Regions from separate parts of the Homo sapiens genome. Here region 2 is linked to region 1. Evidence: fine-mapped expression QTL. A gene starts in region 1. The other region holds a variant in brackets. All regions are shown on one strand. Distances are between the middles of the regions.

Region 1 (8,340 bases):
TGTGCTTAACCATGCAAGCCCTCCCACCTCCCAGGGCTCCTTGCCTTAGGTGGCTGTAGCATCCCTACCACCCAGGACACTGGTGCGAATGACACAACTCAAGTTGGGAGGGGAACAGGGAAGGAAGGGATGGATGGGGGTGGTGTATCTTACTCTGTTTAAGCAGAACACCTTGTTTGCGGTGTTGGAACATGGTTCCTTTGGCAGAAGTGCTTTTTTTTTAATCGCAGTACTATTTTTATAAAGCAAGAACTATTCCATGCCTTGGAGAATGAATCATTTTTAGATTGTGACATAAATCTTGTAAAAACCTGTCAGTTATTTTCATCTATGAGAGAAGAGGAGCCCAAACTCTCGCCCACCTGTTCTTAACCAGAAAACCCACTGACTTTGAAAATCTCACCTCTGCCACCCATCTACTTGCATTCGTCTTTGGCAGACCTCAAGATAAATATGGGTTAATGCCTGCATGATGCCTCTGAATTCAGGAATTGCAGGGAAAACTCGGGGCTTTGTGCCAGTCTCTAAGTTGGCAACTTTGGCTGAACAAATGAGTAGTGGCTTCAGTGTCCTTGCGTACACATTCTGTGGATTGATTTAATGGAGTTGTCAGCATGATCATCATCTTCTAGCCAGGGGCATAGTTGCCAAGGCCATTTACCTCTTTCTAAGAAGAAACAGAATTATGTGTATATATGAGAGAAAGAAACAAGAATGCGTGAATGAGGATGAAGAAACATTTACCCCATGTACTCAAGACATTTCAGTTTTAAAAGTCACTTTCCTATTAGACTTCTTGAAAAACATTCTCACATAGCCTCTATGTAATCAGACAAATGACATTTGATTTCAAGAGCAGAGGGGTAAACATCCTCTGCTAATCGACAGGTAGCAGGTGTCAGAGGAGGCATAATATTAATAGCGCCACCTTCTGTTGGGTCAGTGGAGATGGGTGAGGAACAGCACAGAGCAGCAGGGATCATCACATGCAGCCAAACTTGGCCTCTGAAGGGGGAAGGTAGTGGGAATAGGTGGTGAGAGAACTCACATTTTTCTCTTGTCCTGGTTTTATATTTCGGAGGGAAAGGATTATTTGGCCCCATTAAGAATTAAGAGGCTGGGTGCGGTGGCTCACGTCTGTAATCCCAGCACCTTGGGAGGCCCAGGCAGGCAGATCACCTGAGGTCGGGAGTTCGAGACCAGCGTGACCAACGTGGAGAAACCCCCGTCTCTACTAAAAATACAAAAAATTAGCTGGGCATGGTGGTGCATGCCTGTGATTCCAGCTACTTGGGAGGTTGAGGCAGGAGAATCATTTGAACTCAGGAGGCGGAAGTTGCGGTGAGCCAAGATTGTGCCATTGCACTCCAGCCTGGGCAACGAGCGAAACTACATCTCAAAAAAAAAAAAAAAAGACATGGCTGGGCATGGTGGCTCACACCTGTAATCCCAGCACTTTGGGGGGCTGAGGCAGGTAGATCACTTCAGGCCAGGAGTCCAAGACCAGCACGTCCAACATGGCAAAACCCAGTCTGTACTAAAAATAGAAAAATTAGCTGGGCGTGGTGGCGTGTGCCTGCAATACCAGCTACTCAGAAGGCTGAAGCAGGATAATTGCTTGAACCTGGTAGGTGGAGGTTGCAGTGAGCTGAAATCATGCCACTGCACTCCAGCCTGGGTGACAGAGCAAAACTGCCTTAAAAAAAAAAATTAAGAGACAGCCCGTGTCCCAGTCCCTCGTCTTGCACTGCAGAATTTACATCTAAGAAGAAAATGTATTTTTGAAAGGGTGATGGCTGGCCTCATCCCTCACTAATTGACAACCCATCTGTCGATGCCATTTTTTCCCTTCCTGTTCTCACTCCACAGAAAGAGGAGATACGGTTCTTGTTTGGTAATTGCTAAAATCTCTTTGAGGAAAGAAATAAAGATGTCAACTCCTTTGGCCTGCTTTTTCATTTATTTTTCTTAGACAAATAGACTATATGAAATCTAACTTTTGTGTATATCTCTGGGTAGCCTAGGATACACATGCCCTCATCATAGCAGTGGTTCACAAACTTCTGGATGCAAAAAAAAAAATTACTTGGAATGCTTGTTTAAAATGCACATTTTTGGCTCCTCCCAGCCCCCAGAAAGGTTTGAAGCTCAACAATCTTTTTTTTTTTTTTTTTTTTTTTTGAGATGGAGTCTCGCTCTGTCAGCTCACTGCAACCTCTGCCTCTCAGGTTCAAGTGATTCTCCTGCCTTAGCCTCCTGAGTAGCTGGGACTACAGACACGCACCACCATGCCTGGCTTAATTTTTGTATTTTTAGTAGAGACGGGGGTTTTCACTACATTGGCCAGGCTGGTCTCGAACTGCTGACCTCGTGATCCGCCCGCTTCAGCCTCCCAAAGTGCTGGGATTACAGGTGTGAGCCATCACGCCCAGCCAGCAATCTGATTTTTAGCCCCAAAGGCTTCTGATATGTGTGGTTGTCAATATACAGCAGCTTCGGCAGCAAGGCCCTCGGTATACTGTGATAGGCTGGGTGGGAAGGAAGTAAGATAATGTAGCTGTTGATTGGCAATTTTAACTTAATGGTAAGTTGACAGCATTTTATATCAAAATACAAGTAGGCATTAGAGTACAAATTTTCAAGAAAACCACCCAGAGAAACGTGCTTTCTGTGGGTCTTAAATGACACTATAAAGGCTATCACTCAGTTTTGCCATATGATGTGGGGATGAGCGCTCATTTGTTGAATTGCCAGCAATTCTGCAGCTTTGAGTTTTTTATTCAGGCAGGGGGTTTTGAACAAAGTGATAAGCTGGGTTCAAAACCTGTGCCATAAAGAAACCTGTACTGCTACCAATTAGAAGCCACTGTTTGATGGTTTTTGTTTTTTTTTTTTTTTTGAGATGGAGTCTCCCTCTGTCACCCCAGCTGGAGTGCAGTGGCGCGATCTCAGCTCACTGCAACCTCCGCCCCTCCAGGTTTAAGCAATTCTCTGCCTCAGCCTCCAGCGTAGCTGGGATTACAGGCGCGTGCCACCACGCCCGGCTAATTTTTTGTATTTTTAGTAGAGACGGGGTTTCACCATCTTGGCCAGGCTGGTCTTGAACTCCTGACCTCGTGATCCACCCGCCTCGGCCTCCCAAAGTGCTGGGATTACAGGCGTGAGCCACCGCGCCCGGCCTGCTTGATGGTTTTGTCTTCGCTGTAGTATGCATTCATCCCAAGGTATATTTCAGAGTTGTATATTAATTTTCATCTTGCTCTCTAAGGTACTCTCCAGTATTCTCTTGGACTTCCTAAGTCTTAAGGAAACTGAAATGTACACAAAGCAACTAGTACAGAGAATACTAGTTGATGGCAGTTTGAGAATGTGGTGACGGGCAAGTGATGTGTGGCCTGTAGGTGAGTGGAAACATTTTGGCTCTGCTGGATGAGAAGGTTATATCTGGGCCTTCCGCGAAGAGTAGACTGTCATTTTAAAATCAACCAAAAAATATTTTGCCGAACTGAGACTATAAAGTAGCAAGTGGTATGATCAGGTCTTGGGAATTTTCCATAGTTTCCTCCAAGAGCTGGATCTTCGTTTCTTCCAATTGGTTAGCAATGCTTAGAAAGACAGTGATATAATGAATTTTCTTTGATACTAAGCACAAATTTGTTTATGCACAGGGTATAGGAAATGGAGGACAGACACCCAGTATTGGCTGACATGCATCTATTATGAGCTCTGTAGGCAGTATCTCTCCATCCTGAGGTCAGTTCTATAAGGTAGGTGCTATTTATATCATATTTCAGACGAGAAACACGCTAAATACTTTGAGCCCAGATAGGCTATTCTTCCCACCCTATCAGTAGTACTCAGCATGGAAGCAAACTGAGACATTCATTGCCTTCCTCCAGACGCTTCCTGCCAGCTCAAGCTAGGATGCGATCCCGAGCTCATTCCCGGGGAACCCAGAGTATTAACAAACACCCTAAGTGATAATGATACAGACGGGGAAACTGCGCTGGAGCAGGTCAAGCAGCAGTCGACAGCGTTAACCTGTCAGCTATGGGAGGAGGCGGTGCGAGGCGCGGGCTGGTCGGAGCCGCGTACCACGCCCCCCGGCCCGGGTGGAACGAGGACAGGTGCTGCCCTCCCGCGGCCGCTTCGGCGCAGTGCAACCCCGCGCCGCGGCTGCGCAGTGCCGCCCTCTGGCGGCTTCGTTCCTTCTTCCCATCGGCCTCGGCTTGCGGGCCTTTCAAACATGGAGGAGCGGGAGCGGGGGGCGAGGTCGGCTGGCGCCGGGAGCCCCGCGCGCCCGCCCAGCCCGCGGCTGGATGTCAGCTCTGACAGCTTCGACCCGCTGCTGGCCCTGTACGCGCCCCGCCTGCCTCCCATTCCCTACCCCAATGCCCCCTGCTTCAACAACGTGGCGGAGTACGAGAGCTTCCTCAGGACCGGAGTCCGGGGCGGCGGGCGCGGGCGCGGGCGGGCTCGGGGCGCGGCCGCGGGCTCTGGGGTTCCCGCCGCACCCGGGCCCTCGGGCAGGACTCGTCGCCGCCCGGACGCGCCCGCCCCGGACCCCGAGCGCATCCAGCGCCTCCGCCGTCTCATGGTGGCCAAAGAGGAAGGGGACGGGGCCGCAGGAGCGGGCCGGAGGGGTCCGGGTCGGAGCAGGAAGGCGCCACGCAACGTGCTCACGCGAATGCCCTGTGAGTCCGCGGGCCGGGCGGGAAGCGGGGCAGCCGCCGTCCGGAAGCTGGCTGCCGAGGGGGCGTCTGCGGGGCGGCGGTGGCCGGGCGCGGGTCTGCACGTATTGCGGGAGCGCCTTGGTGAAAATTTGCGGGGATCATCAGTGACTATGGGGTGGATCTGCTTGAGTAATGTGGGTAATGAGGGCGTGGGGAGGGTCACCCTGAGTAAGAAAAGGGGCTGTAGGAGCAACAGAGGGAGAGTGGTAAGGCTGTAGTGGTCATAAGAAGCCGTGGGAAAGGTCTTCAGCGGTAATCGGGGCCCATGGAAGGGTCACAGAGGTGATGAGCCTGCCGAGAGGGTCTACAGGATTGATGGAGGACCTGGAGAGGTGGCGGGGCTACAGAGTTTGGGGGACATCATAGGGACGTCTACAGAGGTGATGAGAGGTCTTAGAGACCACAGTGAGAGGTAAGGTGGGGCGGAAAACGGGAGACGTGGGGGAGCGCACAGCCAATATTAGGGGAAGGAGAGTATTTGGTCAGTGGGATTTGAGGATGATCGGATGGAGTGTGGGGAGATTTGTTCAGATAGCACAGGCGCATAATCCCATAACCCCTGTACATTGACAGCTCCTTCTCGAGTGCGATAAGCAGAAGGGCTGCAGAGTCTTGATACACATATGTTCACATTACTAAGTCACAAGTGCTGAAATGCAGCAGGCACAGAATGCCACTAAAACACAGACGCTGTTTTACAGCCACTCTGCCTGGCTGGGTGCAGGACTGTGTCTGTCAGGCTCATATTACCATATGTGCAGGTTATTTTAAGTTCTAAAGGTGTAAATGGCACAAGGGAATTTCTTGGAGCCTCCTCATAGATCCTTAGAGTAAAGCTGTAAACAGCAGAGGCTCTAATGTGTGAGTTAGGTCTTGTATAAATGGAATAAAAACAGCCTAAGGTTATCTCTTTTGTCATCTGGCAAGCAGTTCTGACATCTGCCCTGTGAACACAATGACCTACTTAGCCATTCAAAGCATCTGTATCCTGATAATTAAATTGTTACCTTATTAAGTCACTGTCTTTTGGATGGAGAGGTGTGCCAAGCAAGGGACTGTTTTGCTTCATTCCTAGAAATTTGTTTATTAAGAGAGAACATCCTGAAACGCTCTGTGCTGTTCCGTGTGCCTTCGTTGGATGTCTTACCATGCCACAGCATCCCTGCCCAAGCTAGGATTTACCCCGGCCTGCTTGCCTGGCTGTAACACAAAGACAGTATGCTTGTTCCCAAAATGAGAGCAGTTTGGGGGACCTTAATTTGCCTATGCAATTTGCCACCATTAGGTAGTTGAAATGCACTCCAAGTCTCATTGCAACATTTATTTCTATTTTACCAGTTATTGCTTTGCTACCAAGATTGTCAAGGGAAAGGAATATTCCTGTGTATTGCTATGTGGTGGGTGGTTTTAGCTTTCCCTATAGAGCACTTTACTGTAATGGTATGACAGTGTGTGAAGACCAGCTTTGTCAACTTCTTATGATTAAGTATATATCCCTGGAATCAAGATCTCAGAGAATATGCCCTACATACTGAAAATTTTCACCATGGCACTGCAGACAGTTGAGTGTACATGAGAGAAAGGCATTGACGTCGCACAGAGTTGATGACCTTCAGAAAGCAAGAAAACAACAGAAACATGGGTGAGGATTGGATTCATTCAAGAAAGAGTTCCTACTTGAGGGTGAAGGGTGGGAGGAGGGTGAGAATCACAAAACTACCTATTGGGTACTGTGATCACTACCTGGGTGACAAAATAATTTGTGCACCAAACCCCAGTGACACACGATTTACACCTGCAACAAACCTTTCGTGTACCTCCTGATCCAAAAACAAAAGTTGGAAGGGGGGAAAAAAAAGAACTAGGTATGTTTTATATGTATGCCACAGTTTTAATTTAAAAAAATATATGCCTACTCTAAACTCTGATTGGATACAGTTGCTCAGGAAAATCAAAATATAGATACCAGTAAGATAATACTATTTGTGGACATATACAAATGCTTTCTGGAAAAAAATGCCTATGCATTTGAGAATGCATAATCCTTTGCAAAATATTCACATAAAATGTAAGTTCCATCAGGCTGTAACAGCAAGAAGAAGCTTTGTTAGGTCATATCATCAGTGAAACATAATGAAGAATACATGAGGAGCTACATTTTGTCGCTGACTTTAAAATGATGTATTTCATCAATTCAGATCCAAGTTACCCATCCAAATTCACAGAGAGGACAGTGTGGAATGTTTATGAAAAAACAAGGAGTGCAAAATTAAGTGTAATGGTGTTTTAACTGTAAAATATTTCACTTTGTATCTCTGTCATAGAATCTCTTTGAATTCCCTTGTGGAGCAGTTGTATTCTTTTCCTTGCAGTAATAAAATTTTAAAAGTAGCCAGGCACAGTGGCTCACACCTGTAATCCCAGCACTTTGGGAGGCCGAGGCGGGCAGAACACTTGAGGCCAGGAGTTCAAGACCAGCCTGGCCAACGTGGTGAAACCCTGTCTCTACTAAAAATACAAAAATTAGTTGGGCATGGCAGCATCTGCCTCTAGTTCCAGCTGTTCAGGAGGATGAGGCACGAGAATCGCTTGAACCCTGTAAGTGGAAGCTGCAGTGAGCCGAGATCATAGGGACATCATAGAGACCTCTACAGAGGTGATACGAGGTCTCAAAAAAAAGTAATAATAAAAGTATAGGAGGCTGTTGCAATACTGGGAATACTAAAGAAGAAAAAAAGCATAGGAGGAAAGGTTTTTCGTCATCATTAAGCCTAAGCCATCACTGATACCAACAAAGAACTCACACACAAGCTGTACTTGCAAGTGGAATGCAATTGCTTTTCCTCCTTTTTAATATTGACATGCCTATAGAGATGGTAAGACAAGACTAAAGAGCATTATCCTCTTTTCCACATAATTCTAGTGTCTATATTTCTCCTTAGTATCGCAGCACCATACCTAGCCCACGGTGGTTCTGGTTTATAATTGTGCTTCAAGCAAGCTTTTTCTAGGTATATCTGTCACTGTGAAATGAACTGGTGTGTTCAAGCTCACGTCTTGACATTATAAAGCTGTAAGAAAAAGTGTTATCATTACTTTGTTTTAGCTACAGGTGTGTTGGTGTGCAGCCTGTGCCGGTGTGAACAAGTGTGTGTGGTCAATCCAAAATGCATATGACATGCAGGGTTTGGCTCCTAGACCATTGTCTAGGTGAATGGCTTGTCTCCAGTTCCAAATTCAGTTTTCCTGCAGGGAGCCTACACAGTCCTTTTACTCGCACACATCCTGCTGAGAAGGATTTCAAAACAAACCTGATTTATTGGGCCTCTGACGTGATACCATGATTGAAAATTTGTTTGAGTCCTGTTGTTGTAGTTTACTTTGATTGCTGAAATAATTTCCCACAATATGGTGTCTTGATGTTTTCATTTTAATAAAGTGATATTCTTTGGATAACTTTGACTTCACTTCCTGCAAATAAAGAGCAAGAAAATAGGCAAAATCAAGAACATCTGAGCCCTGTGTACAGCAGTAAAATGAACTCTCAAATTTGAACAGCATCTCTGTTACACAGAGGTTGCCAAAAGGGCATGAGTATGACTTACAT
Region 2 (8,340 bases), 80 kb before region 1:
CCATTCCTTCCATCTATGTACTATAAACCAAAAGTATCTGAGGCAAGCCTTAATCAATTTAGAAGTTTATTTTGCCAAGGTTAAGGACATCCCCGTGACACAGCCTCAAGAAGTCCTGACAACATGTCACCAAGGTGGTCAGGCTACAGCTTGCTTTTATACATTTTAGGGAGACATAGGACATCATTCAATACTGTAAGATGTACATAGCTTCAGTCCAGAGAGGTGTGACAACTCAAATCAGGGCTTCCAGATCACAGGTGGATTCAAAGATTTTCTGAATGGCAATTGGTTGAAAGACTTATCTAAAGACCTAGAATCAACAGAAGGGAGTGTCTGGGTTAAGATATGGGGTTGTGGATACCAAGGTTCTTATTATGCAGATAAAGCCTCCAGATAGTAGGCTTCAGAGAATATCAGACCTAAAAAGTCTATTCTGTCAGTCTGAAAGTCGCTGTTTCTATGTTAATGCTGGTCAGCTGTGCCTGAATTCCAACGGGAGGAATGTTTAATGAGGCATGTCTGACCACCCATTCCCATTGTAGCCTGAGCTAGTGTTTTAGGTTTACTTTAAAATGCCCTAGCCTGGTGCAGTTGTTCATGCCTGCATTCCCAGCACTTTGGAAGGCTGAGGCAAAAGTATTGCTTGAGTCCAAGAATTTTAGACCGACATGGGCAACGTGGCAAAATCTCGTCTCTACAAAACAATACAAAAATTAGCCAGGTGTGATGGCCTGTGCCTGTAGTCCTAGCTACTCGGGAGGCCGAGGCTGGAGAATTGCTTGAGTTCAGGAAGCAGAGGTTGCAGTGAGCTGAGACTGCACCAGTGCACTCCAGCCTGGGCAACAGAGTGAGACTCTGTCTCAAAAATATAAAATAAAATAAAATAAAATAAAGTAAAGTAAAATAAAATAAAATATAAAATAAAATAATAAAATATAAAAAATATACCCTTGGCCAAAAGGAGGGGTCCATTTCATTGGTTGGGGAATTTAGAATTTTATTTTTGGTTTACAGTATCTCTTTTTTTTTCTTTTGTTACAAATGGGGTTCTTACTCTGTTACCCAGGCTGGATTATAGGCATGAGTCACCGTGCCAAGCTATATACATATTTTTATGCCAGTACCACAGTCTTGATTACTCTAGCTTTATGGTAAATTTTGAAATTTTGAAATCATGTAAGTCCTTGAACTTTGTTCTTTCATTAAATCATATTGGCTTTTCTTGGTCCTTTGGATTTAAAAGATAAATTTTAGGTTCATCATATCAATTTCTTTTAAAGCAAACCCTAATGGTATTTAGATAGAAATTATATTGAATCTATGGATCAATTTTGGGAAAACTGACACCTTGATGATACTGTATTTTCCTATTTGCAAACATGGGACATATCTCCATTTATTTAGGTCTTAATTTCCTTTGACAATGTTTTATAATTTTCAGTGTACTGTCCTGTACTTCTTTCATTAACTTTATTTCTAAATCCTTTATTCTTTTTATGCTATTTGTGAATGTAATTTTTTAAAATTTCCTTTGCAGTTGGTTGTATGTTGATTTTTGTATTTTTATTTTCTTACCTTATTGCACTGGCTGGAACTTTTAGTCCAAGGTTAAATAGAAGTGGTGAGAGTGTACATCCTTTTGCCTTGCACCCAGTCTTAGGAAGAAAGCATCCAGTCATTCACCTTTAAGCATGTTGTTAGTCATAGGTTTATGTAGCTGCCTTTTATCAAAGTAAGAAAGTTTCCTTCTATTCCTAGTTTATTGAGAATTCTACCATGAATAGTAGTTCAATTTTATCAAATGCTTTGTCTGTGTCTATTGAGATGATTATATGGCTTTTTCCTTTAAGGGTCAGCAACATTTTCCAGAAAAGGCTATATAGTAAATATTTTTGGTTTTGTGAGCCATATGAGCTCTGTTGCAACCAATCAACTCTGCTTTGTAGCAGAAAGCAATCATAGACAATATGCAAATGAATGGGCTTGGCTTTGTTTCAGTAAACTTTATTTGCAAAAACAAATGTCATGCCAGATTTGGCCCAAGGGCTATAGTTTGCTTTTGGCTATAGTTTGCTGACCACTGATTTATTCTATTAATATATGTATTACATGAATTGATACTCAGATGTTAAGCTAAAGAACATTCCTGTAATAAATCGACCACACTTGGTAATAGTGTATAATCCTTTTTGTACATTACTGGATCTAATTTGTTGTTATTTAAACAATTTTAGCATTTACATTCATGACGAGTGTTGTTCTATAATTTTCTTGTGATATCTTTGTCTGTGGCTTTTAGTATCAGGGTAAAATGAGCTGTAAAGTGTCCCCTTCTATTCTTGAAAAGATTTCCATTGGATTGGTATTATTAATTATTTAAATGTTAATAGAGTTCCCAATAAAACCATGGAGGCCTGGACTTTGCTTTGAAGAAGATTCTAAAATAATTTAATTAAACGCTTTAATGTTTTTCACTGATATATATCTATGCAAATTGTATAATTTCTTTTTGAGTCTACTTTGATCATTTCTGTTAATGAATTTGCCCATTTCATCTAAGTTGACAAATTGTTGGCATAAGGTTGTTCAAAATATTCCTTTATAAGCCTTTTAATTTCCATAGGGTTCAGAATGCTTCCTCTTTTAATCCCAATTTTGGTAATTTCTGTCTTCTCTCTTTTTTTCTTGGTCATTTGACTAAAAAGTTAACAATTTTGTAGATCTTTTCAAGGAATTAACTGTAAGTTTCACTAATTTTCTCTATTGTTTTGCTGTTTTCTTTTTATTGATTTCTGCTGTGGTCTTTAGTCCTTCATTCTACTTTGGCTTTTCTTTTTGTAGTTTCTTAAGGTGAAAGCTTAATTAATTTTTCTAGGTTATTGAAGTCTTCCTTTCTAATTTTTAAAGCTATAAATTTCTCTCTAAATATTGCTTTACCTGCATTAATTTTGATATGCTCTGATTTTACAGTCATTCAGTAGAAAATATTTTATAATTTCCCTGGAGGTTTTTTCTTTGATGTGTAAACCACAAATAAAATTCAAAAGCCTCCCCCACAAAAATCTGATTGGACTTTCTCCTCAGCCAGGGAACTCTAAAACTTACCCTGAAAGACTGGTTCAGGCCATGAAAGGAAGTAGGGGTTGGACATGCCTCATTACACTCCTCCAGCATTAACCAACACAAACCTTATATCTGATAAGAAACATTGATGGTCTTCTCTCTAATGCCTGCTGGAGGCTTTGTCTGCATGATAAAACCTAGGTCTTCACAACCCTTTATCATAACCCAGACATTCCTTTCTACTGATAATAACTTTTTCAAGCAATTGCCTTCAGAATATGTTTAGGAAGAAGTTGAATCCCTGAATAGACCAATAACAGGCTCTGAAATTGAGGCAATAATTAATAGCCTACCAACCAAGTAGGACCAGATGGATTCACAGCCGAATTCTACCAGAGGTACAAGGAGGAGCTGGTACCATTCCTTCTGAAACTATTTCAATCAATGGAAAAAGAGGAAATCCTCCCTAACTCATTTTATGAGGCCAGCATCATCCTGATACCAAAGCCTGGCAGAGACACAACAAAAAAAGAGAATTTTAGACCAATATCCCTGATGAACATCAATGCAAAAATCCTCAATAAAATACTGGCAAAATGAATCCAGCAGCACGTCAAAAAGCTTATCCACCACGATCAAGTGGGCTTCATCCCTGCGATGCAAGACTGGTTCAACATATGCAAATCAATAAACGTAATCCAGCATATAAACAGAGCCAAAGACAAAAACCACATGATTATCTCAATAGATGCAGAAAAGGCCTCTGACAAAATTCAACAGCCCTTCATGCTAAAAACTCTCAATAAATTTGGTATTGATGGGATGTACCTCAAAATAGTAAGAGCTATTTATGACAAACCCACAGCCAATATCATACTGAATGGGCAAACACTGGAAGCATTCCCTTTGAAAACTGGCACAAGACAGGGATGCCCTCTCTCACCACTCCTATTCAACATAGTGTTGGAAGTTCTGGCCAGGGCAATCAGGCAGAAGAAAGAAATAAAGGGTATTCAATTAGGAAAAGAGGAAGTCAAATTGTCCCTGTTTGCAGATGACATGATTGTATATTTAGAAAACCCCATTGTCTCAGCCCAAAATCTCCTTAAGTTGATAAGCAACTTCAGCAAAGTCTCAGGATACAAAATCAATGTTGAGAAATCACGAGCATTCCTATACACCAATAACAGACAAACAGCCAAATCATGAGTGAACTCCCATTCACAATTGCTTCAAAGAGAATAAAATACCTAGGGATCCAATTTACAAGGGATGTGAAGGACCTCTTTAAGGAGAACTACAAACCACTGCTCAACAAAATAAAAGAG[G/C]ACAAAAAAAATGAAAGAACATTCCATGCTCATGGATAGGAAGAATCAATATCATGAAAATGGCCATACTGCCCAAGGTAATTTATAGATTCAATGCCATCCCCATCAAGCTACCAATGACTTTCTTCACAGAATTGGAAAAAACTAAAGTTCATATGGAACCAAAAAAGAGCCCGCATTGCCAAGACAATCCTAAGCCAAAAGAACAAAGCTGGAGGGATCACGCTACCTGACTTCAAACTATACTACAAGGCTACAGTAACCAAAACAGCATGATACTGGTACCAAACCAGAGATATAGACCAATGGAACAGAACAGAGCCCTCAGAAATAATGCCACACATCTACAACCATCTGATCTTTGATAAACCTGACAAAAACTAGAAATGGGGAAAGGATTCCCTATTTAATAAATGGTGCTGGGAAAACTGGCTAGCCATAGATAGAAAGCTGAAACTGGATCCCTTCCTTACACCTTATACAAAAATTAATTCAAGATGGATTAAAGACTTAAATGTTACACCTAAAACCATAAAAACCCTAGAAGAAAACCTAGGCAGTACCATTCAGGACATAGGCGTGGGCAAGGACTTCATGTCTAAACACCAAAACACCAAAAGCAATGGCAACAAAAGCCAAAATTGACAAATGGGATCTAATTAAACTAAAGAGCTTCTGCACATCAAAAGAAACTACCATCAGAGTGAACAGGCAACCTACGGAATGGGAGAAAATGTTTGCAATCTACCCATCTGACAAAGGCCTAATATCCAGAATCTACAGAGAACTTAAACAAATTTACAAGAAAAAATCAACCCCATCAAAAAGTGGGTGAAGGATATGAACAGACCCTTCTCAAAAGAAGACAGTTATGCAGCCAACAGACACATGAAAAAATGCTCATCATCACTAGCCATCAGAGAAATGCAAATCAAAACTGCAATGAGATACCGTCTCACACCAGTTAGAATGGCGATCATTAAAAAGTCAGGAAACAACAGGTGCTGGAGAGGAGGTGGAAAAATAGGAACACTTTTACACTGTTGGTGGGACTGTAAACTAGTTCAACCATTGTGGAAGACAGTGTGACAATTCCTCAAGGATCTAGAACTAGAAATACCATTTGACCCAACCATCCCATTACTGGGTATATACCCAAAGGATTATAAATCATGCTGCTATAAAGACACATGCACACGTATGTTTATTGTGGCACTATTCACAATAGCAAAGACTTGGAACCAACCCAAATGTCCATCAATGATAGACTGGATTAAGAAAATGTGGCACATATATACCATGGAATACTATGCAGCCATAAAAAATGATGAGTTCATGTCCTTTGTAGGGACATGGATGAAGCTGGAAACCATCATTCGCAGCAAACTATGGCAAGGACAAAAAACCAAACATCGCATGTTTTCACTCATAGGTGGGAATTGAATAATGAGAACACATGGACACAGGAAGGGGAACATCACACACCGGGGCCTGTTGTGGGATTGGCAGAGCGGGGAGGGATAGCTTTAGGAGATATACCTAATGTTAAATGACGAGTTAATGGGTGCAGCACACCAACATGGCACATGTATACATATGTAACAAACCTGCACATTGTGCACATGTACCCTAAAACTTAAAGTATAATAAAAAATAAAATAAAATAAAATAAATATATATTTTAAATATACATTTATTTTAAATATATAAATATTTAAATAAATATAAATAATTATAATTTATAATTTATTTATAATAAATAAATAAAAATAAAACTATATGGAGCCCTTAAGTGTTTTAGGTACTTGACATCTATTGTGTATTATTACCCCCATTTAATAGTTCAGGAAACTCAGACCCAAAGAGATGGAGGAACTTCACTAAGATTACACAGTGAGTCACTGCAAAGTTGCAAAACCTGGTCTGACTGACCATCTTGCAGGATATTCCCTTTTTTTTTTTTTTTTTTTTCTTAGATGGAGTCTCACTCTGTCACACAGGCTGGAGTGCAGTGATTTGATCTCGGCTCAAATTTCAAAGCAATGAAATTCCTGAAAGCCACTTAGTTATTGGGAGAGAAGAAGATTAAAAGAAAGAAAAATTAGTGAGTGAAGAATGGAGAGGTATTGGATGGGAAGATATTGTGGGAGAAATGGAATCTTGAAACTAAGGAGATTGGCCAAAGGTTTTTGTTTTTTGTTTTTGTTTGTTTGTTTGTTTTTGAGACAGGGTCTCACTCTATCACTCAAGCTGGAGCACAGTGGAAAAATCATGGCTCGCTGTATTCTTGACTTCCTGGGCACAAGCGATCCTCCCACCTCCACCTCAGCCTCCAGAGTAGCTGGGACCACAGGAACATGCCACCATGCCTGGCTAATTTTTGTATTTTTGTAGAGATAGGGTCTGGCTATGTTGCCCAAGCTGGTCTCAAACTCCTGGGCTCAAGAGATCCTCCCCTCTCAGCCTCCCAAAGTGCTGGGATTGGTGTGAGCCACTATGCCCAGATGAAAGATTCTTTAGTCCAGTAGACACACACACACACACACACACACACACACACACACACACACACACACACCTCAGTTCAAATGAAATCTCAGCTGGGATCCCATTCAGGTCATCAAAATCGTTAGCATATTAACATTTATTGAGCACTCATGTGCCAGGTATAAGGCCCAGCTCTTTTCAAACATGATCTCATTGAATCCTCCCAACAGCAGAATAGGTAATTTTATTAGCCCCATTTTATGGATGAGGTTTTTTGTTTTGTTTTGAGATGAAGTCTGGCTCTGGCGCCCAGGCTGGAGTGCAGTGGCACAATCTCAGCTAACTGCAACCTCCACCTCCTGGGTTCAAGCGATTCTCCCGCCTCAGCCTCCTAAATAGTTGGGATTACAGGCATGCACCACTACACCTGGCTAATTTTTGTGTTTTCAGTAGGGACGGGGTTTCATCATGTTGGCCAGGCTGGTCTCCAACTTCTGACCTCAGGTAATCCACCTGCCTTGGCCTCCCAAAGTGCTGGGATTACAGGCATGAGCCACCATGCCTGGCCAAGGTCAACTCTTTAACATCAAAGCTGGACTCCAACCCAGGTGTCTCTTCCACTAGGTATCTGAAGAACTTGTCACCCACTCTGGGATGGATAGGCCATTAGGGAGAGTCAGGCTGGGTTAGGGAGATGTGGATGAGGGAGAGGCTCACCCAAGAAGTGGAGGGATGGGACGTAGGAGTCCTGACTGCTGCCCCAGACTCCTATGAAATAAAGAGATGAGCTCAGCTTGTCACTGGAAAATCTCTGTGGAGTATTCATTGTGCCTGAAGTTCTATGATGGTGGCAGTGGACAGATGAAAAGTACTATCTCTTAAAGAGATTAAGTATGTTTGAACACAACTTCATTTCTTGTTGAAAATACATTTCATTTCCCCTCCCTTCATTCCCCCACCAAATGCATTGTACTGCTTTGGAGTACTTGGAAAAACCAGTTTAAAAACCTTGAGGCTGGGTATGGTGGTTCATGCCTGTAATCCCAGCACTTTGGGAGGCCAAGGCGGACGGAATCACCTGCGGTCAGGAATTTGAGAACAGCCTGGCCAACATGGTGAAACCCTGTCTCTTCTAAAAATACAAAAATTAGCCGGATGTGGTGGCAGGCCCCTGTAATCCCAGCTACTTTACTCTGGAGGCTGAGGCAGGAGAACCACTTGAACCCAGGTCGCAGAGGCTGCAGTGACCTGATATCATGCCACTGCCCTCCAGCCTGGGCGACAGAGCGAGACTCCATCTCAGAATACATACATACATACATACATACACACACACACACACACACACACACATACAAACCTTGCTGGATGCACAGTAGACTTTGTTCCTTCCCTCTACAACATTTCTCCATGACCTGGAACAAAAAGAAGGGAACTTCTGTTTACTGAGCACCTATGA

Which allele goes with the higher level. Positions count from the first base shown, and alleles are read on the strand shown. Sizes are in standard deviations (SD) of each study's normalised expression.
For the expression in lymphoblastoid cells of the gene that starts at base 4,208 in region 1, allele G in region 2 goes with a higher level than allele C (moderate effect, 0.74 SD a copy in GEUVADIS).

What was found. PIP is the estimated chance that this variant, and not a neighbour inherited with it, causes the effect. A credible set is the group of variants that fine-mapping cannot tell apart.
Region 2: its variant is the best candidate, but not a certain one, in a credible set for the expression of LSM11 in lymphoblastoid cells (GEUVADIS, PIP 0.72).

The regions. Positions count from the first base shown.
Region 1 is chr5:157,739,505-157,747,844 of GRCh38, forward strand. It overlaps LSM11 (LSM11, U7 small nuclear RNA associated), which reads left to right and starts at 4,208. Exons shown (of 4, transcript NM_173491.4): 1 at 4,208-4,694. The coding sequence starts at 4,247. It overlaps THG1L (tRNA-histidine guanylyltransferase 1 like), which reads left to right. Exons shown (of 6, transcript NM_017872.5): 6 at 1-1,945. RefSeq lists a silencer at 3,992-4,551 and an enhancer at 4,571-5,071.
Region 2 is chr5:157,659,557-157,667,896 of GRCh38, forward strand. LOC105377675 (a long non-coding RNA gene) reads left to right here. Exons shown (of 3, transcript XR_941127.3): 3 at 1-2,481. It also overlaps a transcript of SOX30 not described here. Among named protein-coding and RNA genes, the nearest start is that of C5orf52, 7.8 kb to the right of the region's middle. The variant G/C (reference allele first, on the strand shown) is at 4,395.